2 linked regions of the Homo sapiens genome follow. The protein of the gene in region 2 interacts with the protein of the main gene of each other region in a pairwise test. Each region holds a gene or a part of one and is shown on either strand. Other genes may lie near its edges. The genes, in order: RASAL3 and WASF3.

Region 1 (10,978 bases), on a different chromosome or scaffold from region 2:
TGCAGTGAGCTGAGATTGCACTACTGCACTCCCGCCTGGGCGACAGAGGGAGACTCCATCTCAATGGAAGAAAAAAAAAAAAAAGAAAGAAAAAAAATGACAGATGGTGCTAAGTGTCACACAGGGGGATCTAGAAGAGTAATGGATATCACAAGAATTAGGGCTCAGGAATGTAACACTAGCCTAGGGCCCAGCATTTTTTTTATTTTTTTTTTGAGATGGAGTCTCGCTCTGTTGCCCAGGCTGGAGTGCAGTGGCGCGATCTCGGCTCACCGCAAGCTCCGCCTCCTGGGTTCACGCCATTCTCCTGCCTCAGCCTCCTGAGCAGCTGGGACTACAGGAACCCGCCACCATGCCCAGCTAATTGTTGTATTTCTAGTAGAGACAGGGTTTCACTGTGTTAACCAGAATGGTCTCGATCTCCTGACCTCATGATCCGCCCGCCTCAGCCTCCCAAAGTGCTGGGATTACAGGCGTGAGCCACCGCGCCCGGCCCCAGGCCCAACATATTTTAAGTGATCCGTTAATAAGCGGGAGTTATCATTTATTGCTCCTGGTGGTAAAAACAAGGGAACAGACAGGCAATCTGGGAGGGCTAATTCAGCCCTCCTATTTCCTGGAAGCTCATTTAATTCTCACTGCTTATATTCCCATTTTGTTTTTGTTTTTGTTTTTGTTTTGAGACACAGTCTCACTTCCTTGCCCAGGCTGGAGTGCAGTGGCGGAATCTCAGCTCACTGCAACCTCTGCCTCCCAAGTTCAAGAGATTCTCCTGCCTCAGCCTCCTGAGTAACTGGGATTACAGGCATGTGCCACCACGCCTGGCTAATTTTGTATTTTTAGTAGAGACGGGGTTTCTCCATGTTGGTCAGGCTGGTTTTGAACTCCCAGCCTCAGATGATCCACCCGCCTAGGCCTCCCAAAGTGCTAGGATTACAGGTGTGAGCCACAGAGCCCAGGCACATCAGGCTATTTTTTAAAGACAGGGTCTTGTTATGTTGCCCAGGCTGGTCTCAAACTCCTGGTCTCAAGCAATCTGCCCCACCTCGGCCTCCCAAATGTTGGGATTACAGGCATGAGCCACCTTGCCCAGCCCCTGTCCTGTTTTTTAACCTCTTGGACCCACATAATGTCTTGGTTAAGAGAAGAATGCAAAAAAAACAAAAAAACAAAAAAAGAGAGAGAGAGAAGAATGCTTGTGACTGAAGCCCAGCCCAACCACTCACAAACTGTGTGACCCTGAGCAAGTCACTCAACCTCTCTGAGCCTGTTATCATAGCCCTTTGAATGGCTTTTGGAGGATTCAATGCAAGAAGGTGTGTGGAGTGGTATACAGGGTACTGGGCACATGGTAGGTGAGTTGTGTCTGCTACCCATGGTTAGTGGGGACAAGGCCCAGACAGCGATGAAAGCTTGCCCAAGGTCATACAGTCTGATACGGCTGCTGGGGTGGGGGGCACCTAGGAGGGAACCCACCATGAGCCTTCGGGAATGGAAAGGGTAGCCTGAGGGAGAGAAAACGTCTCTTAAGTCCCCCAGTGCCTCCTCTTCTTCCCAGAGCTGGAGCCGGAGCCAGAGCTGGAGCCCCCTACCCCACAGATCCCTGAGGCCCCCACACCCAACGTGCCTGTCTGGGACATTGGGGGCTTCACCCTGCTTGATGGGAAGCTGGTGCTGCTTGGAGGAGAGGAGGAGGTGAGAGGGGGCACCTGGGAAAGGGGAGGAGGGAAGAAAGAAAAAGGAGGAGGGCAGAACAGAGGCAGGGGCTGGAGGGAGGATAATGGGAAGGTGTCTGCCTCTCCCTCGGTCTGCCTGCCTGCCTGCCTGCCTGCCTCCCCTCTCTGACTACCCACTCCTGCGGGAGAACAGGGTCCTCGAAGGCCCCGGGTGGGAAGTGCTAGCTCCGAGGGCAGCATCCACGTGGCCATGGGGAACTTCAGGGATCCAGGTAAGCTTGAGGGGTGGAAAGGCCTGGGGCATTTGGGAGGCTCTAAAAGTGGGGCAGAATCCAACCCCCCAACCTGCCACCCATAACGACCCACAGATCGGATGCCTGGAAAAACAGAACCGGAGACTGCTGGTCCCAACCAGGTCCACAACGTTCGGGTAAGGCAGCCAGTGAAGGTGGGAGGTAGAGGGGAGAGCCAAGACTCTCGGACCCTCAAAGCTGAAAGGGCACTCTTGCTGGGTGATCTGGAGCAGGTTGCTGACCCTCTTTGGGCCTCAGAGTCCCAGTCTGTCAAATGAAGCTAATGAAATAACCTTTCTCTAGGGGTTGTTTATGGGAAGCCAATAGAGAGTGCAGGAGCCAGGCAGGGCAGTGCGCAGCTATAGTCCAAGCTACTCGGGAGGCTGAGCAGAGAGCACTGCTTGAGGCCAGGAGTTCAACACCAGCCTAAGCAACATGGGGAGACTTCATCTCTTAAATAAATAAATGAATAGTATAGGAGAATATATGATTGATGCTTTACAAATGGGAGTTTGGGCCAGGCACAGTGGTTCACACCTGTAATCCCAACATTTTGGGAGGCTGAAGCAGAAGGATTGCTTGAGACCAGGAGTTCAAGACCAGCCTGGGCAACATAGCAAGTCCCCAATTCTACATGGTAACATTCACCTGTAGTCCCAGCTGAGGCAAGAGGATCACTTGAGCCCAGAAATTTGAGGCTGCAGTGAGCCATGATCGCACCACTGTACTCCAGCCTGGGCGACAGCACGAGACCCTGTCTTAAAAAAACAAATGAACAAAGAATTAGGAGCTGCTGATTGCTCTTATTATTCCTGCTAATACAGCCTGAGCTTGGTGTTGGTCCTCCAAGACCAGTAGATCCTCTGGGATGTCTTGGGAGGGAAGGAGCTGAGGAAGGAGCACAGATTTCTGTCCAGCTGACATTCCCTTCCCCACAGGGGTTGCTCAAGAGGCTGAAAGAGAAGAAAAAGGCCAGGTTGGAGCCCCGGGATGGGTAAGGGTGTATGAGAGGCTGGAGGGGCTGGGGTTCAACACTGGCCCCTCCTCCTCCACCTCCTGCATATCATTCCAATCTACACCAAACACCCCCTGTGGCCTCTGTGTTCTGCCCCACATCAGTTGATGCTGGGGACATTGAATGATCTAGCACAGAGCCAGGGTGGGGGCAAAGTCTGACACAATAACTCTAAAATGGGAGCTAAGTCAATCAACTGGTCTGGGAGGGTTAGGGAAGGTACCCTTGAGCTGAGATCTGAAGGGTGGATGGAAGTTAACTAGGCCAACAGGGGGGTGGAAAAAGCATTCCAGGCAGAAGGAACAACAAGTGCAAAGGCCAAGAGGCCGAAAGAAGCAACTAAAACAAGGCCAAGAGGGCTGGGTGAAGTGGCTCCCAGCACTTTGGGAGGCCAAAGTGGGCAGACTGCTTGAGTCTAGGAGTTCGAGACCAGCCTGGGCAACATAGTGAGACCCCATTTCTACAAAAAATACAAAAATTAGCTAGGCATGGTGGCGGGCACCTGTAGTCCCACCTACTGGGGAGGCTGAGTGGGAGGATTGCTTGAGCCTGGGAAGTTGAGGCTGCAGTGCACAGAGATCATGCCACTGCACTCCAGCCTGGGCAACAGAGCAAGATTGTGTCTCAAAAATAAATAGGGCTGGGTGCGGTGGCTCACACCTGTAATCCCACAGTTTGGGAGGCAGAGGCAGGTGGAACATTTGAGGTCAGGAGTTCAAGACCAGCCTGGCCAACGTGGTGAAATCCCATCTCTACTTAAAATACAAAATTAGCCAGGCATGGTGGCGAATGCCTGTAATCCCAGTTACTCAGGAGGCTGAGGCAGAAGAATCGCTTAAACCTGGGAGGTGGACATTGCAGTGAGCCAAGATTGTGCCACTGCACTCCTGCCTGGGCAAAAGGGCAAGACTCCATCTCAATAAATAAATAAATAAATAAATAGGGCTGGGCACGGTGGCTCACACCTGTAATCCCACACTTTGGTGAGGCTGAGGCGGGTGGATCACTTGGGATCAGGAGTTCAAGACCAGCCTGGCCAACATGGTGAAACCCCACCTCTACTAAAAATATAAAAATTAGAAAATTAGCCAGGCATGGTGGTGGGCACCTGTGATCCCAGCTACTTGGGAGGCTGAGGAAGGAAAATCACTTGAACCTGGAAGGCAGAGGTTGCAGTGAGCTGAGATCCAGCCACCGCACTAAACAAGACTCTGTCTCAAATAAATAAATAAATAAATAAATAGGATAAAATAAAACAAGGCCAGGGAGGCTGGAGCTCAGAAAGTGATGGATTAGGTGGAGGGAGATGAGGTGACAACATCTGGACCCAGCTTGGTCATGTAGGTCACCAGGAGTTGAGTTTATCCTAAAAGCAAGGAGGTGCCATGGCGGGGGGTGGGGGGGGCACGGGGGAGAAACGGGATCCGAATTGGGTTGAAGTCCTTCCTGGCCTTCCTCTACCCTTCAGGCTATGGGGGATGGGGAAGAGGCAGGAATGACGGTGTGCTCACCCACCCCCTTCCCAGACCCCCCAGTGCTCTGGGCTCTAGGGAGTCGCTGGCCACACTCTCTGAACTGGACCTGGGTGCCGAGCGGGATGTGCGGATCTGGCCACTGCACCCCAGCCTCCTGGGGGAGCCCCACTGCTTTCAGGTAAGTGTAGACAGTCCACCTCGATTCCACCTCAGTCCCACCTCCCACCCTTTGGCTTCACCCTTGGCCTCGATCACACCGTTGGATTCTCCATCCCAACAGGTAACCTGGACGGGTGGAAGCCGCTGCTTCTCTTGTCGCTCGGCCGCTGAGAGAGACCGCTGGATCGAGGACCTTCGTCGCCAATTCCAGCCCACCCAGGTCATTGCCCTCAGAAAAGCGGGACACGGAGACCCCGCCCACAGGCCTGGCCCGCCCCTTCCACTCTACCCAAAGCCAGCTCGCTCCATAACCCGCGCCCCCAACACACCTGCCCCGCCTGCATCGTTGCAACGGCTCCAAGACTCCCCTTCCATCTATTACCAGCCCCGGGAATATCAGACCCGCCCCTTCTGTCCACTCCCGGCCCCATATGCACCCAAAGCCCTGCCTGCCAGGCAATCGCGAAGTCTTTACTCCAGTACTACTCTTGTATGCCCTGGAGCCCCCAACTCTCCCGGAGAGCCCAGAAAAGCTAGAAGACTTCCGCGTAACCGCCTCCGGACTCCCGTGGCTCCACTTCTTTCCCCAAAGGCCCAGCAATCTCCCTAGGGACCCGACGCAACAGGTTTGAGGCTCCACGCTTCACTTGCGGTGCCTTCTTTGGGGTGCCAACAAACCAAAACGCTTCCCCCCATCCCACTCCCATCTGCAGGACAACGTGGAGCGGGAAGAGACATGGCTGAGCGTGTGGGTGCACGAAGCGAAGGGGCTTCCCCGAGCAGCGGCGGGGGCACCCGGCGTGCGCGCCGAGCTGTGGCTGGATGGCGCGCTGCTGGCACGCACGGCGCCTCGGGCCGGCCCAGGCCAGCTCTTCTGGGCCGAGCGCTTCCACTTCGAGGCGCTGCCACCGGCACGTCGCCTGTCGCTGCGGCTGCGCGGCTTGGGCCCGGGAAGCGCGGTGCTGGGCCGCGTGGCCCTGGCGCTGGAGGAGCTGGACGCCCCACGCGCGCCTGCCGCCGGTCTGGAGCGCTGGTTCCCGCTGCTCGGGGCGCCGGCGGGCGCAGCGCTGCGGGCGCGGATTCGGGCGCGTCGCCTGCGCGTGCTGCCGTCCGAGCGCTACAAGGAGCTGGCGGAGTTCCTCACCTTCCACTATGCGCGCCTCTGCGGGGCCCTGGAGCCCGCGCTGCCTGCGCAGGCCAAGGAGGAGCTGGCGGCAGCCATGGTGCGCGTGCTGCGGGCCACCGGCCGGGCGCAGGTGCGGCACCGCGACAGCGCGGACCGGGGCTACCAGGGGTAGACCGATAACGCGCTTCGGGCAGGAGTTGGGGCGCAGGACCTGAGTTGCACCTGTAATGGGGGAGACACCTTGAAGGGGTGTGAGGGGCGTGGTCCAAGTGTCACCTGTAAGCGGCGGGGCACCTAGAAGGGCGGGGCACCTAGAAGGGCGGGGCCTGAACATCACCCGTAAGGGGCGGGGCACCTTGAAGGGCGGGACCTGAGCGTCAGCTGTGAGGGGCTGGGGCTGAGCTGCACCTGTAAGGGGCGGGGCACCTTGAAGGACTGGGCCTGAGCTTCAGCTGTGAGGGGCGGGGCCTAATTATCACCCATAAGGGGCGGGACACCTTGAAGAGCGGAGCCTAAGCTTCAGCTGCGACAGGGGCCTGAGCATCACGCGTGAGGGGCGGGGCCCAGGTTGCACCTCAGCGCTGAAAGGCTTAAATTTCTGCTGTGAGGGTTAGAGGTTCCGGCCTCGGTTATGAGCCCCAGCAGTAAGGACTGGGCCTAAGCATCAGCTACAAGGGGCGGGGCCTGTGCCTCTGGTGTGAGGGACCAGCCAAGGATCCGAATTCCCTTGGACTCTGTCTGCATCTGGTGCAACCTGACCTCCTGCCCTTCCTAGGCGCTGGTGACTGACCTGGGCACTGCGGAGCTGGCGCGCTGTGGAGGCCGTGAGGCGCTGCTGTTCCGGGAAAACACATTGGCCACCAAGGCTATCGATGAGTACATGAAGCTCGTGGCACAGGATTACCTCCAGGAGACCCTGGGTGAGCTGGGGGAGAGTCCATGTCAGCGGCCTGCTGGTGAGCTAGGGGACCTGGGTGAAGTTCTAAGAGTCCTTGAGCAACCTGGATTCTGGTAGTGAGTGGTGTTTTGGGGGTGCTAGGATCCTGGGGACAATTGGGAGCTCCCCAAGATGTTGGGTGCCTCCGGAATAACCTGAAGACAAGGTTGGAGGATGGGTGTGGCAGGTTTTGGTGGTCATGGCCCCAGCCCCTATCTGGCTGTGCTGGGCTGCAGGACAGGTTGTGCGGCGTCTCTGTGCTTCTACTGAGGACTGTGAAGTGGACCCCAGCAAATGTCCAGCCTCGGAGCTGCCAGAGCACCAGGCCAGACTTCGGAACAGCTGCGAGGAGGTCTTCGAAACCATTATCCATTCCTACGAGTGAGAATCAGGGCCCCAGCAGCTTAGCCCACCCCTGCTTACCATGCTAGCCCCGACCTCCAGTTTAGGGTGGCCAGATAAAATACAGGAGACACTCAGTTAAATTTGATGCAATAATTGGGACCATGCTTATACTAAAAAATTACTCATTTGAACCAGGCATGGTGACTCACGCCCGTAATCCCAATGCTTTAGGAGGCCGAGACAAGAGGATTGCTTGAGCCCAGGAGTTCAAGGCCAGTCTGGGCAACATAGCAAGACTCCATCTCTCCAAAAAGCTTTTTAAAAATGAGCTAGGCATGGTGGCACACACCTGTATTCCCAGCCGAGGCTGGAGGATCGCTTGAGCGCAGGATTCAAGGCTGCAGTGAGCTATGATCATGCCACAGCACCCCAGCCTGGTTGACAGAGACCCTGTCCCAAATAAAAGTAAAAATATAAATAAAAATCACTCCGTTATCTGAAATTCATGTTTAACTGGATGTCCTGAAGTTTCGTTTGCTGCATCTGGCAACCCTATCACCATGCAACCCTATCACCACTGACCCCAAGTAACCTGAGACCCAATTCCTTGTCCTGTAACCACAGTTGATTCCATATCCCCAATTTCATGCCACTGGCTCCAGTTAACATAGGACCTCAATCCTATGACCAGATGATGCCCCAAGTCCATGATCCCTGGCTTTAAGTGACCCTCCACCTCAAATCCCATGCAACTGATCACAGGAGACCTGGGATTCCAATCCCTTGACCTCTGACCCTAGGTTAACCTGCATACCTAATCCCTGACTTCAATCAAGTGACTTCTGACCCTAGGTGACCTCCAGAGCCCCAATCCTACTTTATATCTTGTACTCTGGCCCACCAGTCTCATGTCTAATTATAAGTACATCCAAGCTCATAACCTCTGTCTTCATGTGACCCTGTATCCCCAACTATAAGAGTATTATCCCCAGCGATTGCCATAGCTACACCATAAGCCATGGCCCCATGCTGATTCATAACCCCAAGCATTGTTATCTCAGATATTCCCAATCCTAGAGCCCAGACCCCAGGTTCAGTGAGAAGGAAGCCTGCATGGGCTTCATGAATAGCTCTCTGGAGGATCATGGACCAATCATGCAGTGCTTCTGGGACTCCCAACCTTATGACTTTAACCTTTATGCCCATAGCCTCCCCGTCTGACCATTCATTGCCTCTTCTGCACCAGCTGGTTCCCTGCGGAGCTGGGCATCGTGTTCTCAAGCTGGCGAGAAGCATGTAAAGAACGTGGCTCTGAGGTGCTGGGCCCCCGACTGGTGTGCGCCTCCCTCTTCCTGCGGCTCCTGTGCCCTGCCATCCTGGCACCCAGCCTCTTTGGTTTGGCACCAGACCATCCAGCACCCGGCCCAGCCCGCACCCTCACACTGATTGCCAAGGTCATCCAGAACCTCGCCAACCGTGCCCCGTAGGTGCTGGGAAGCTAGGGGTGGGGGGACCATGCTGGGAGTGTGGGGGTGGCAGGTGCCTGACCTGACCCACCCAGCCTGGCCCTGATCCAGGTTCGGTGAGAAGGAGGCCTACATGGGCTTCATGAATAGCTTCCTGGAGGAACATGGACCAGCCATGCAATGCTTCCTGGACCAGGTAGCCATGGTGGATGTGGATGCTGCCCCCAGTGGTTACCAGGGCAGTGGTGATCTGGCCCTCCAGTTAGCTGTCCTGCATGCCCAGCTCTGTACAATTTTTGCTGAGCTTGACCAGGTATGGCCTGAACCCAGAGTAGGGAGGCAAGAAGGCTTGGGAGACTCTGACCCTGGAGACTTTGCTCAGTCTCTGTCCTGCATGCCTCACCAGACAACCCGAGACACCCTGGAACCACTGCCCACCATCCTGCGAGCCATTGAGGAGGGCCAGCCTGTGCTTGTGTCAGTGCCAATGCGTCTCCCACTGCCCCCGGCCCAGGTCCACTCCAGGTAACCTCAAGTCTGGTCTGGGGTCTGATGGGTGGGAACAGGAAGGAGCAGGGCTCAGACAGGGGTCAGAGGTGAAGTTGGATCATTGTGAGCAGAGGTCAAGCCCAGGGTCAGACGGGAATCACAGGTTATAGAAAGGGTTGGGTCAAAGGTCACAGTGTGTTTGAGGTCGGGGATGAGAGGAGAGGTTAGGGTGGAGAGATGTCAAGGGTCATAGAGAGGACAGTATTATAGTCAGAAGTCAAGGACAGGAGCCAGGCTCAGTGGCTCATGCCTGTAATCCCAGCACTTTGGGAGGCTGAGGCAGGAGGATCACTTGAGGCCAGGAACTTAAGACAAGCCTGGGCAACATAGGGAGACCCCATCTCTACCAAAAAAAAAAAAAATTACCTGGGTATAGTGGCATGTGCTGGTAGTCCTAGATATTTGGGAGGCTGAGGCTGGGGAATAGCTTGAGCTCCAGAATTCAAGGCTGCAGTGAGCTATGATCTAGCCACTGCACTCCAGCCTGGGCGACAGAGCAAGACCTTGTCTCAAAAAAAAAAAAGAAAGGACAAGTTCACGTGGGGGGTGAGGTCACTTCTGGTCAGGTCGGGATGGGGTCGTCTCAGGGGCCAGTGGAGGGTCTAAGATCCTCCATCCCACCCCTAGCCTCTCCGCAGGGGAGAAGCCCGGCTTCCTGGCCCCCCGGGACCTCCCCAAGCACACCCCTCTCATCTCCAAGAGCCAGTCTCTGCGCAGCGTTCGCCGCTCAGAGAGTTGGGCCCGGCCACGGCCGGACGAAGAGCGGCCCCTGCGGCGGCCCCGGCCGGTGCAGCGCACGCAGAGTGTCCCGGTCCGGCGTCCTGCCCGCCGCCGCCAATCTGCGGGGCCCTGGCCGCGACCCAAAGGCTCCCTGAGCATGGGACCAGCGCCCCGCGCCCGGCCTTGGACCCGGGACTCCGCCTCGCTGCCTCGGAAGCCGTCGGTACCCTGGCAGCGCCAAATGGACCAGCCGCAAGACCGAAACCAGGCACTGGGCACGCACCGACCTGTGAACAAGGTAAGGTCAGGCCCAGGTCCGCGCCTGGGGAGTGGGAACAGGGACGCGACTGGGGAAGACTGAAGGGCCAGGCAAGTCTGGGTTCAAGTACCCAGCTCGCTGTGCTGTGTGACCCCAGGCCTAGCCCGACCCTCTCTGAGCTTCAGTCTCCCCAGCTGTACCGCAGGAGGGATGTTCCCCAACTAGGCAGGCCGGTGATGACGCTGAGCGCTTGGGCCTGGGAGGTCAGGGTCTCCGGGGAGACACAGGGGCGGGACAACGGGTCAGATTACAGCTGCTCTCCCACCACAGTTGGCAGAGCTGCAGTGCGAGGTGGCCGCTCTGCGTGAGGAGCAGAAAGTGCTGTCCCGCCTCGTGGAGTCGCTGAGCACCCAAATCCGGGCCTTGACGGAGCAGCAGGAGCAGCTGCGGGGCCAGCTGCAGGATCTGGACTCCAGGCTCCGTGCTGGGTGAGCCCAGCCCTCTCCATTAGCTCCGCCCCCAGGTGGGCCCGATCCAATTAGATCTGACCAGGCCCTCCCCCCCCCCCCCAAACCACGCCTAGCACGGCCAAGCCCCACCCTGGCCCCGCCCCAATAAGTCTGTCCAGGCCCTGCCTCTTGGCAAGCCCCGCCCCCAGGTGGACCCACCCAACGAAGGTCGGCCTAGGACCCTGGCAGATTCTCTCATCCAGGCCCCACCCCTCCATCAGCCCCTCCCAACCTGGCTGGGCCGGGCACTGAGATATCTCAGCCTGGGCACTCCCTCCAGCTCAGTCACGACCCCACCCAGGACTGGCCAAACCCCACCTCCAAGGGATGATTGATAGGTCCTGTCATTCCAACCATTCCCGTCTCTGGTCCGACCCTTCTTCAAGCATATTTAGGCCCCGCCCCTCAGTCTGGACAAGCTCCGCCTCCACTCCAAGCTCCGCCCCCGG
Region 2 (11,027 bases):
CAAATCTGATGTTGAATTGTAATCCCCACATATCAGAGGAGGGACCTGGTGGCAGGTGATTGGATCGTGGGGGCAGATTTCTCCCTTGCTGTTCTCATGATAGTGAGTGTGTTCTCATGAGATCTGATGGTTTAAAAGTGTGTGGCACTTTTCCCTTCTTTCTCTCTCTACTGCTCTGCCATGGTAAGACATGCTTGCTTCCCCTTTGCCTTCTGCCATGATTCTAAGTTTCCTGAGGCCTCTCAGCCATGCTTCCTGTTAAGCGTGCAGAACTGAGTCAATTAAACCTCTCTTCTTCATGAATTACTGAGTCTCAGGTAGTTCTTTATAGCAGCATGAGAACGAACTAATACAGTGGCTTCATGGGGGATGGAAGCCTGTTCTCCGCATGCTCACCATGGGAATATCTAAGTCTGATGCCTTGGAGCCCTCTGTCTTTAAGTGCTATTTAGATTGCTTGGATATTAGTAGTTCCAATGACATCATGAAAACTCATTCAACAAATATTAGCTCTATGCCTAGTAAGTGTTAGGCACTAGGGATTCAAAATGAATAAGAACTAGTCTCTGGCCTCAAATAATTCCCTGTCTGGTGGGGGACAATGAATTAACCGTGGCAATAAAGCCATGTGAAGGAGTGCAAGGAGAGTACAGAGGCTGGTGTAGGTAACTGTGCCCAGGAAGGCTCCAGAGAGGTGAATTTGAGCTGCGTTGTGAAAGTTGAGCTTCCCAGGTGAGGAAGGGCAGGAGGGGTATTCAGACAGAAAGCCCAGGGCATGTAGGGCGAATGCTAGTGGTGCAGGATGCTTCAGGAAATCTGGTAGCTGGATTATTTTTAAGGGCTTTATTTGACTTATCCTGTAGACAGTGGGAGACTCTGACGGTTTTTGAGCAGCATAGAGATGCTATCAGATCTACATTTTAAAAATTGCTCATAAAATAGCGTGAAGACACAGTGAAGGAAAAACCAAGGGAAATGTGTTAGAAATATTGTCACAGCACAAAAAGGGATGGTGGTGAACTCAGCTTGGGTTGTGGGAATGGGAAAGGAGAGGCAGGGATAGATTTGAGGGAAGTATTGGCCATGTGCTTCTCAGAATATTGTGCACACATTACTCTGCTGTTTCACTTAGCAAGAATAGCAACTTCTAGGGCTCTCCATGTTCATTGGAAAAACAGCTTGTCTGTGAAAATATCAGTGAGTCTTGGCTGGGTTACCTTGGGGGAAAAAGACAATTTCTCTGGGCCTTATCTATAAAATGGGCAACAGACCACATATCCAATAGATGTTATGAAGGTTAAATACAACAAATACAGCATACTGCACATAGAGCATTCTCAACAAATGTTTGTTATTTTTACCTTCTCATAATTTTCCTCACCTCAAAATAAAGTTAATATCAATATACTGCCTTGCTCTGATGAGATAATTGGGTTAATATTAAAATTTAAGATATAGCCATGTTTCCAGCAAATATTTTATTCTTTGAGACGTAGATATGGATATGTATGTATTTATTTCACTCTATGTCAAGATGAAAATAAATACTATCCTTCAGAAGAAAGCTCGGGTAAGTGAAGTATGTTTATAAAGATTTATATATGGAGCTAAATTAATTCTTGAGAACTGAGGTATTTGTAGTCATTATTTTACTTCATTCTGAGAACAAGTACAAATGAGCATGTCAAAAATGACAGTTATTATGCTTTTAAAATTTGATTTCTTACATATTCTAATTATATTCTTTTAATTAGTAACCACTCTTTGTTCTTTCTCTTCCGCAAAGTGAGATTGAACTCAGTTCCTAATGCAAAGCAGTTTGTAATTTTTATGTAAGATGACATGTTATTAAGTAAAAAGAATGACAATTGTTTTTCCACTAAAGACTTAGTGATGACAAAAGAGAATTAAGCAAATCACTGAGGGAATACCTAATTTATTAAGTGTCTTGAGAAAGTCACTGTGTCATCACTATCAGATTCAAATTAAGAGGATGCCTAAGCTGCCTACATTTTGACTTTAGAAATATATCCAAGATTTTGACCAGGCAAAGAACAAAGATGGCACAATTCAAGAGGTTTTAAAAATAGTTGTGAAGCATATTCTTATTAGGAATATGCTTGAGAGCTGTTCAGTTATCGTAATGCTAGACAGCTGCATCTCACTGCCCTGTGGGCCCCGGACTGGCTTCACTACACGCTGCATGCACGGGATTTCACAGAACACTGACAGTCACTTGCATCACCAGTATTCTCTTGACCACAATACCTTGTCACCAGTTTCCCTGCTGCTAGATTTTATTTTACTGTACTTCAGTATAATACCAGCATCGTATACCAGGTTGGTCAAATATTTACAGAGAAAAAGTTGGGAGGGGGTAGTAACGGAGTCTGGAGGAGTTACAGGTATCGAGTCTCCACGGTTCCATTTTATAGGCTATGCACGGCTCTGCTTGTACACTAGAATGATCCAGACATTTTTATTTTGGAGATATATGCTGAAGTATTTAAGGTAGAGTATCTTGGTGTTTGCAATTTGTCTACAAGTGGTTCAGCTAAAAAATAATGGAGAGGCCGGGCACGGTGGCTCACGCCTGTAATCCTAGCACTTTGGGAGGCCGAGGCGGGCGGATCATGAGGTCAGGAGATCGAGACCATCCTGGCTAACACAGTGAAACGCCGTCTCTAATAAAAATACAAAAAATTAGCCAGTTGTGGTGGCGGGCGCCTGTAGTCCCAGCTACTTGGGAGGCTGAGGCAGGAGAATGGTGTGAACCCAGGAGGCGGAGCTTGCAGTGAGCCGAGATCACGCCACTGCACTCCAGCCTGGGCGACAGAGCGAGACTCCATCTCAAAAAAAAAAAAAAATTATGGAGAGACAGAGAGAGAGACTGATGGAGCAAATGTGGCCTTGTGTAATTGGATAAAGGTATATGGGTGTTCCTTCTACCATTCTTTCAATTTTTCTTTACATTGGAAAAATTTTAATATAAAAAGTCAGGAAAACCTCCCCAAAACTTTTTCTTTTCTTTTCTTTTCCTTTCCTTTCCTTCCCTTCCTTCCTTCTTTCTCTTTCTTTCCTTCCTTCCTTCCTTCCTTCCTTCCTTCCTTCCTTCCTTCCTTCCTTCCTTCCTTCTTTCTTTCTTTCTTTCTTTCTTTCTTTCTTTCTTTCTTTCTTTCTTTGACAGAGTCTTACTCTGTCACACAGGCTGGATTGCAATGGTGTGAGCACAGCTCACTGCAGCCTCCAACTCCTAGGCTGAAGCGACACTCCTGCCTTAGCCTCCTTCTGAGTGGCTGGGACTACAGGCATATGCCACCACTCTTGGCTAATTCTTTTAGTTTTTGCAAAGATGGGAATCTCACTATATTGCCCAGGCTGGTCTCAAATTCCTGACCTCAAGCAAGTCTCCTGCCTTGGCCTCCGAAAGTGCTGGGATTACAGGTGTGAGCCACTGCACATAGCCCAAAAACTTCTTAAAAGGTACAATGATAAAGAACTTTTAAAAAAGATTTACCAATAGTTGAAGGACAATAGAATTTGTGACTGCAATAAAGGTCCATAAATACAGCAAAGGTGACCTTGCTTAAAAAATTTTAAGAAACGAAACTTTCTTTTTATTCTGTTAACTATGGTTCCTACTGCCTTTTCCAGAATGAATATACTTAGAATCATACAGTCTGTAGCCTTCTCAGACTGACTTTTCTCATTTAGCTATATGCATTTAAGTTTCCTCCATGTCTTTGTATGGCTTGATAGCTCATTTCTTTTTATCATGAAATAACATTCAATTGTATGGATGTACTGCAATTTGTTTATTCATTCACCTTGTGAGGGACATCTTTGATTCTTCCAGGGTCTCGTGATTATGAATAAACATTCGGGTACAAGTTTTTGTGTGGGCATGTTTTCAGCACAATTGGGTAAATACCTAGGAGTGTGATGGCTGGACTGAATTGTGAGACTATGCTTAGCTTTGTGAGAAACTGCCAGACTGTCTTCCAAAGTGGTCGTACCATTTTGCATTCCCATCGGCAATGGATGGGCATTCCTGTTGTTTTGTATCCTTGCCAGTATTTGGTATCCTTAGGTTTTTTGTTGTTGTTGCCGTTAGCTTTTTTATTTTAGCCATCCTAGTAGGTATGTCATAGTATTTCATTTTTGTTTTAATTTGCAATTCCTTAATGACACATGATATTGAGCATGTTTATTTGCCATCTGTGTATTGTCAACTCCACTTTAGGGAGGTGTCTGTTTAGATCTTTTGCTCACTTGAAAATTGGATTGTTTTTTAATTGACACCTGAGTGGCCTTTTTAAAAAAGTGGGTCTTATGAATAAATAGAGTGAGGGCTCAATCATGAATTCATTTATTCAGCAACTACATCAGGTACTGCCACTCTCATACCCAAGGTCTGCATTCCTCTTTTCCATTACTAACAAAACTCTAATATTCCTCCAGCCAATGCCCCAACTTTAAATACTTAGCATTTCAGACTCCTTTGCAGCTAAAGGTGGTCATGTGACATGTGGCTGGCCAATAAAATGCAAGCAGAAGGTGCTGGGTAAAGCTTCCCAGGAAGATGCAGACCCAACTGGGCATGCACCTCTTTGATCTTTTGCCCTTTACCCATCCCCCTACCATTTTCCTCAATGTGATGCAATGCTTACAAGGGAAGCAGGCATCCTGTGAGGATGAAGACAGAGATCACATGACAAGGATAGCAGAGACAATGGCTAGAAAGAGCCTGAGACACAACGACACCATAGAAGAGATATTACAGAAGCCCTGTGGCTGTCTCCAGGTTTCTGGTTTTGTGATAAGAAGCACTCCTATTTAGTAGGCACTTTTAGTCAAGATTCTGTTACAGGTCACCAATTCACTCCCTGATGCAGCAACATTTTATTAAGGATGAGGCACTTATTAGCGGTGGGCTCTAATCCTCTAACAAGACTGCTCTAAGCAGTTTTTATTTAAAGGACTGGTTCACACAAGACCATATTTGAAATAATTTATTTGTACCATGAACCACAACACTAGGAATAGAATCATATTTACCACATGCTCAGCACTGTACTAGGCATTATAAAAGGAGGAAAGAGGACTGTAAAATAAGGGCCTTATCCTCATGGAACTGATGATCTAATTAGAGAGGTAAGACTGACCTATATGAAACAAACCTGAACACTTTGGGATGATGTGTTTAAGGGCTAACAGTGAGTGCAAACTAAGTGTAGCAGCGGTTTATAAGGCTGGGGTCACCGAAGAGGGAAGCAGCCAGGGAAATATGATTAGCAACCTTGAAAACACTCTGGGTATCTATACTTTCATATTTTTGAGTTCTAAATTAATGACCTAAACATAGACATGGAAGCCATTCCCCTGGGTAAGTGAAGATGAAATGAAGGAAAGTCATTTTAATTTGAATGCCAATTTAGCTTTCAATTCAGCAGACATTTGTCACTCTAGTATCAATATTTAAAATACTGGGTCACTGTAATTATTCACCAAAATCCTGTTTACCTTGTTAATTACCAGCAATTTTTTAAAATGATGGCACTTTATGGAAACTGAATATACGTCATCTTTAAAAAGAGCTTTTAAAATCCCTCCTTTGGAAGTAATGCAGGTTAATAGATTAGACATTTTATGAAGAGGGCTGCATGATTTTTCTACTGCATTTCTGGTGTTGCAAACTTTGGTGAAATTATTAACTGCTATTCATTTTTTCCAACTTTTAGTTGTCTCTAGCTAGATGTTGATCATTATTACACATCTGTAAAGAAAAGAGCAAACCAACTTGAATTAGTGTTTCTTGAACTATTCATTAGAATTTAAAATTTTTTCCTAAAAGTTTTTCAATTTAGTGATCCTATTGGTAAATAAAAAGAATAAAGGCATGCAAATTAAAATAAAGGTAACATTTCTATTAGATGTTTTTAAACCCCTTTCCTTTGTGACCTAGCTTTTCTATCTTGGCTTTTCTATCTTTTCTTCTCTTCCTTTCCTTTCCTCCTTTCTTTTTCTTAAGTTTGTTTATGCCTCAGTCATCTGGTCGCACGTGGCTATGTTCCACTGTGGCAGGGCTTAGCTGGCAGTTTCAGGGATATCTTAGTTTTAATAAGTATTGTGGATTTCCTCACATCTAGGGTGGAGAGAGATTGGTTATAGGGTGATAAAAACAGAAGAATCTGTGTTGAAGGAGATGGGAAGATTTTAAGAATGCTAACGAATTTGAGCAGGGCATAAAACCAACCCATGAACAGGGCTACAGTCCTCTCAGGGTTGCCTGAAGCCTCAGCCCTGGAGGACGTCTGACACCTTACAGGTAGAGGACCTCTGTGCAGGAGCCCTCAACACCCAGGGAGGATTAGGATATAAGCGCAAACTCAAAGGTACTGTAATGGGCACCTAGCAATCAGAGGTGATACAAGGGTCTCTTGGCCCGAAGTATCCCCACCTCTCCTCGCTGGAAAGGACGCTGCCTAAGCCTCATCCCGAGCTGGGGGCGGAGGACCAAGGGTGAGAGCCACCGCCTCCGCAATCCCCCGCCCCTCGGCACCGTCGCTCAGCGCGCTCGCCGGCTCCCTATTGGCCGAGGCACTCGCCAATCCTGGTGAAGCGGCCCCGTGAGTTGGCCCTGGTTGGTGGAGCCGGCACTGAGCCCCCCTCCTGCTCCGGCCGAGCCCCCCCGCCGGGAGGGGGCGTGGCCGCGGCCGTGGACGGGCCGGAGGCGGCGTCGCTCGCGCCGCTGCGTGCGGTGTGGTGCGAGGCGGGTGCGCCGGGCGGCCGCGGCGCGGCGGGACCATGGAGCTCAGAGCGCAGCCCCGGCGCCGGCGGCGGGACCGCGGACCGGTGAGTGAGGGCTGCGGTCGCCCCGGCTCTCCGCTGTAGGCTGCTGTGGCCCTCTCGGCTCCGGGCCGGGCGGCTGTCGGGGGAGGGGCGGCCCCACGGCGAACTGAAGTTGCTGCATCGCCGCGCGCTCCGGCCGGGCGGCGGGGCCCACTGCGGGCTGCGGCGCCGCCTCGCGCCTATCCCTGCAGCCCGGCCGCATTCTCCCGGCCGGCTCCCGCGCTGGCAGGGGCTTCTCGCCGTCACGGCGCGGCCAGGCGGCCCTTCTCTCCCGCGCCTCCGGGCCTCCGGCCCTTTGCCGTCCGGTGCGCGCTCCCTGGACTCGGGACAGCCACCCGCCCTCCCCGCCGTAAGTGGCGCCCGGGCCTCCGCTCGCGCCCCACGCACGACGCCCCGGGCCGCTCCGCGTCCGGGACCTTCGCATCCGTTCAGTGTCTGCGCGCCCTCGCTGGTTCTGGTCCAGCTCCGCGTGCCCCCCGGCCCCATTCGGCCCTCGCCGCCCTGGCCTGTGCCCTCTTGGTGCCCGCGTGCGTGTTGGTTGCGGGCGTCCTCTCCCTCGAGGCTGCGGTGCCGCGTGGCTCCCGGCCTCGGAGACCAGGCCGGACTCTTGGAGTGCAGGGGAGGAGGTGGGGCGGCCCGCGAGTGCGGGGGACCGCGCGCACGGAGCCGCGGCGCGCGGGGTATCATCCCCGGGGGTCTTTACCCGCGCGCCTGGGCTTTAGCGAGGGCAGAAGCTTCCTCTCAGTTTGTGGTGCTGACGTGCAATGGCGATTGCTTCTTGATTTGGCCCCTCTGCAAGGGAGAGTTCCCTGGTGGAGACGAGAGTTCTTAATTATTCAGAAACTATGTGATGGGCTTAGGGATCAATGGGAGCATCATAGGAATTCTTTCTCATTTTAAGGTTAATTTTTAAATTAGCGGTTTACTTCCAGCAACAGTCTCGAGTTTTCAAAAACTGAAAATTAAAAAGACTACTTTTCGCAGTTCTTCAAATTAAATGCATAGCAGAACATGGTATTTTAAGATTCAGAGTCTACTTTTTATAAGGGGGAGAGGATAGCTATTTGAAATATTTTGCATCTTAAAAATTAGGTTTATCTAAAGCTTAAAATGCGACTCTATCAAAACTAAGTTCAAAGTATTGTAATTGACTAATCTTTCTATTGTCTCTAGGGCAAATTCTATTGCTTCTTTTTATATGTGCTTTACCCAACTCTCCTTTTCTAGCAGTTAAACAATGCAGTGGTTCTTTAAAGCTAGTTCTTTTATCTGCTTGAGAGGTTAAACAAACGAAAGCTGGGTTTGACCTTTCCCAAAGGCATTCTCATTGTGTCCTCTCCAGCTCCCTTCTCCCAGGGTTCTAATGACTTCAGTGTAGTACTCATTTTTCTTCATCTTGAAAGATTTTCTTAGTTGGTATTCACAAAAGCTGTGTCTTTTCACATGTTTAAATATTGGAAAGTTTGGTCAACTATTATATTTACCTTCCAACCTGTGCTTATTCTAGAACTATGTACATATAGAAATTGTTCTTGCATTTCCAGTTGGCTGACATGAAGTTGCTTAATAGCATTTGTTTTTAAAAAATCTGTTTGCTTTAAAATTTACAACCTAATAGTCAATGATGTGCTTCACTATCTTCAACAATTACGAAAACAAAGGTGGAACACACTTTGCTAAGTGGTCATGCCAACATTGTAACCTCCTATCTCTTGTCAGTGTGTCTTTGTAGTCACACGTTACGGTTCCCATAGAAACCTATGTATGGCAGGTAACCTTTTGGTTATTGGGATGTTTTGATTAAAACAATTGCGTTATAATGCAAGTATTAAATGAATTGTCCCTACTCACGGGCTAGTACTAGTGATCGTCTTTGGAATTCCAAGGACTTTCTTTGAAGAGTACTCCCAGATTGTTTTTCACTTTGGGTGGCTCTCCATTGCTGTAGACCTTGAATCTCTTTTTCTTTTCTTTTCTTTCTTTCTTTCTTTCTTTTTTTTTTTTTTTTTTTTTTTTTTGAGACGGAGTCTTGCTCTTGTCTCCCAGACTGGAGTGCAGTGGTGTGATCTCGGCTCACTGCAACCTCCGCCTCCTGGGTTCAAGCGATTCTCCTGCCTCAGACTCCCGAGTAGCTGGGAGTACAGGCGCCCGCCACCATGCCCGGCTAATTTTTGTACTTTTAGTAGAGATGCAGTTTCACCATGTTGGACAGATTGGTCTCGAACTCCTGACCTCAGGTTGATCCGCCCACCTCGGCCTCCCAAAATGCTGGGATTACAGGCGTGAGCCACCGCTCCCGGCCGAATCTCTCAACTTCTCTTCTCAGTCCGTTTTAAGGGCCCTGTTTCTTTCAAGTCAGGCTTTTTTTGGCTTTGCTCTTGGGCATGTGGAACTAAATGCTTCTGACAGCCCCACACATTCTTCTTCAGGGCTGGTTCTTTACCTGTGGCTTGACTTTATGCTGGTAATACAGAAATATTTTATGCCAGTAATACATAAATGATGTACATTATAAAATAAACAATATCAACACAGAGATTTATAGAGGTAAAAAGTCTTAAGTTTTCTTTTTCCCGTCTTATTGTTGTCCTATTCCTATTTCTTTCTTCAGAGGTAACCATAATATAGGGTGTATCCTTCTGGATTTTTTCCATTTAATACTGTAGATGAAATATATAACCCTGTATGTTAAAAAAACCATTTCATGAATGCCTACTAGGTACCAGGTACTATTTTAATCACTAGGGTTGCAAAAATAAGAGACAGACGCTTTCAAGATGTTCATAGTCTACCAGGACAAGCAATTACAGTGCAGTGTGATAAGTACCATGATAGAGTCAGTAATCAGTGAGGGATGTAGGAGCCTCATGCATGACCTAATCCATTCATTCATTTGCTTTATTCATTCAGTACACTTCAGAGTTTTAATATGTGCCGGGGATACAGAGATAAACAAGACAGATACCTCTGTCAGCCCCCGATGAGCTTGCTGTGCAGTTCAGTCTCAAAGAGTTTTAACCGTTGGTTACAATGTATTGTTTGATATGGGATCTGAAAGGGGCCAGCAACAAGAGCTCAGAGGAGGACCATAAACCCAAGCTTAGGGACGTTCAGAGAGACAGGAAAGCCTCCCAGAGGAAGCACCATGAGAAGGAATTGGTCGAAGTCTGGGTTGAGGAGAGGGTGTACAGAGAGATGGTCAGGGAGGTGATGCACTGGAGCAACCACAAACACCAGGAGTTCAGTCCAGTGGGGGTGGTTGTGGGCAAGGGCAGGGAAGTGGCAAGAAGTGAGGGAGGAGAAGTAAGGAGGGACTGTGCCTTGTGGGGTCTTGTGATTACTGTTGTGTGGAGTTCGGAGACCTCTGTGGGCAACAGGAAATGGTTGAAGAATTGTAAGCAAAAGAGGGACACGGTCAAATTTGCCCTTTGGAGAATGGATTAGAAGAGGGAAGGCTTGAAGCAGGGAAATTTGAGGAGGTAGAATTGCTGGGATTTGGTCATTGGCCGTGTGTGTGTATGTGGTGGGGGGAGTTGGGGCAGGGAGGAGTTCAGGGCAGTGTCCAGCTCTGGCTGGGTGGTTGGGTGATGGCACTGTCCTTAGGTGGGGACAGAGCAGCATCCATTTTGGGGAAAAGATTATGGGTCACACTTGGCTGGGTTAAGTTTCAGGTGCTGAGGGGACAGTGTGTTCAGTTGGCTGCACTAGGGATCCAGATAATCAGGAGTTGTCTGGATTAGAGAGACGCATGTGAGAGTTATTAGCTGTCCCAGACTGTCTCAAACAGTTTGAGAGTTTCCCAAACTATCAGCTAAGGTGCTACAGCAAACAGGGAGACTGGGGGATGTTTCACATTGTTGAGGAAAACACATAGTTCCGTCTCTTCAAGCCTGTGGAAACTACTAGCTCAAGATAGTTAAAAATGTCTAGATTAGATTGCACTCCATTCCATTCGATGACCTCATGTTTGTAAAGAAGGATTTTTGGTGGTTGCTGTAGCACGTGAAAATCAGTGTAGAAAAGGAAATGAGGGAGGCCATTGTCCAGTCTGACTCCAAGGTTTGAGAGAAATTGTGCAGTGCTCAACAAGTGTACACATACTGTATTAGTAAATACTTGTGGTTATCTAAGAATGAAATAAAAATGCCATTTTTTCTCTCTATTAAAGTGTACTT

The links.
Region 1: the proteins of WASF3 (region 2) and RASAL3 interact in binary tests that used the Homo sapiens proteins (3 or more experiments, as listed by UniProt).

The regions. Positions count from the first base shown.
Region 1 is NC_000019.10:15,452,188-15,463,165, reverse strand, and holds part of RASAL3 (RAS protein activator like-3), read left to right. Parts: intron 1-1,558; coding exon 1,559-1,695; intron 1,696-1,869; coding exon 1,870-1,948; intron 1,949-2,044; coding exon 2,045-2,106; intron 2,107-2,907; coding exon 2,908-2,963; intron 2,964-4,510; coding exon 4,511-4,637; intron 4,638-4,739; coding exon 4,740-4,838; intron 4,839-5,331; coding exon 5,332-5,874; intron 5,875-6,519; coding exon 6,520-6,664; intron 6,665-6,917; coding exon 6,918-7,062; coding exon of another isoform or gene 7,063-7,066; exon of another isoform or gene 7,067-7,257; coding exon of another isoform or gene 7,258-7,317; exon of another isoform or gene 7,318-7,528; intron 7,529-8,234; coding exon of another isoform or gene 8,235-8,272; coding exon 8,273-8,509; intron 8,510-8,603; coding exon 8,604-8,805; intron 8,806-8,898; coding exon 8,899-9,017; intron 9,018-9,668; coding exon 9,669-10,059; intron 10,060-10,350; coding exon 10,351-10,508; intron 10,509-10,915; coding exon of another isoform or gene 10,916-10,978. UniProt on the Homo sapiens protein: Functions as a Ras GTPase-activating protein. Plays an important role in the expansion and functions of natural killer T (NKT) cells in the liver by negatively regulating RAS activity and the down-stream ERK signaling pathway.
Region 2 is NC_000013.11:26,550,965-26,561,991, forward strand, and holds the start of WASF3 (actin-binding protein WASF3), read left to right. Parts: upstream 1-6,718; 5' UTR 6,719-6,855; exon of another isoform or gene 6,856-7,201; intron 7,202-11,027. UniProt on the Homo sapiens protein: Downstream effector molecules involved in the transmission of signals from tyrosine kinase receptors and small GTPases to the actin cytoskeleton. Plays a role in the regulation of cell morphology and cytoskeletal organization.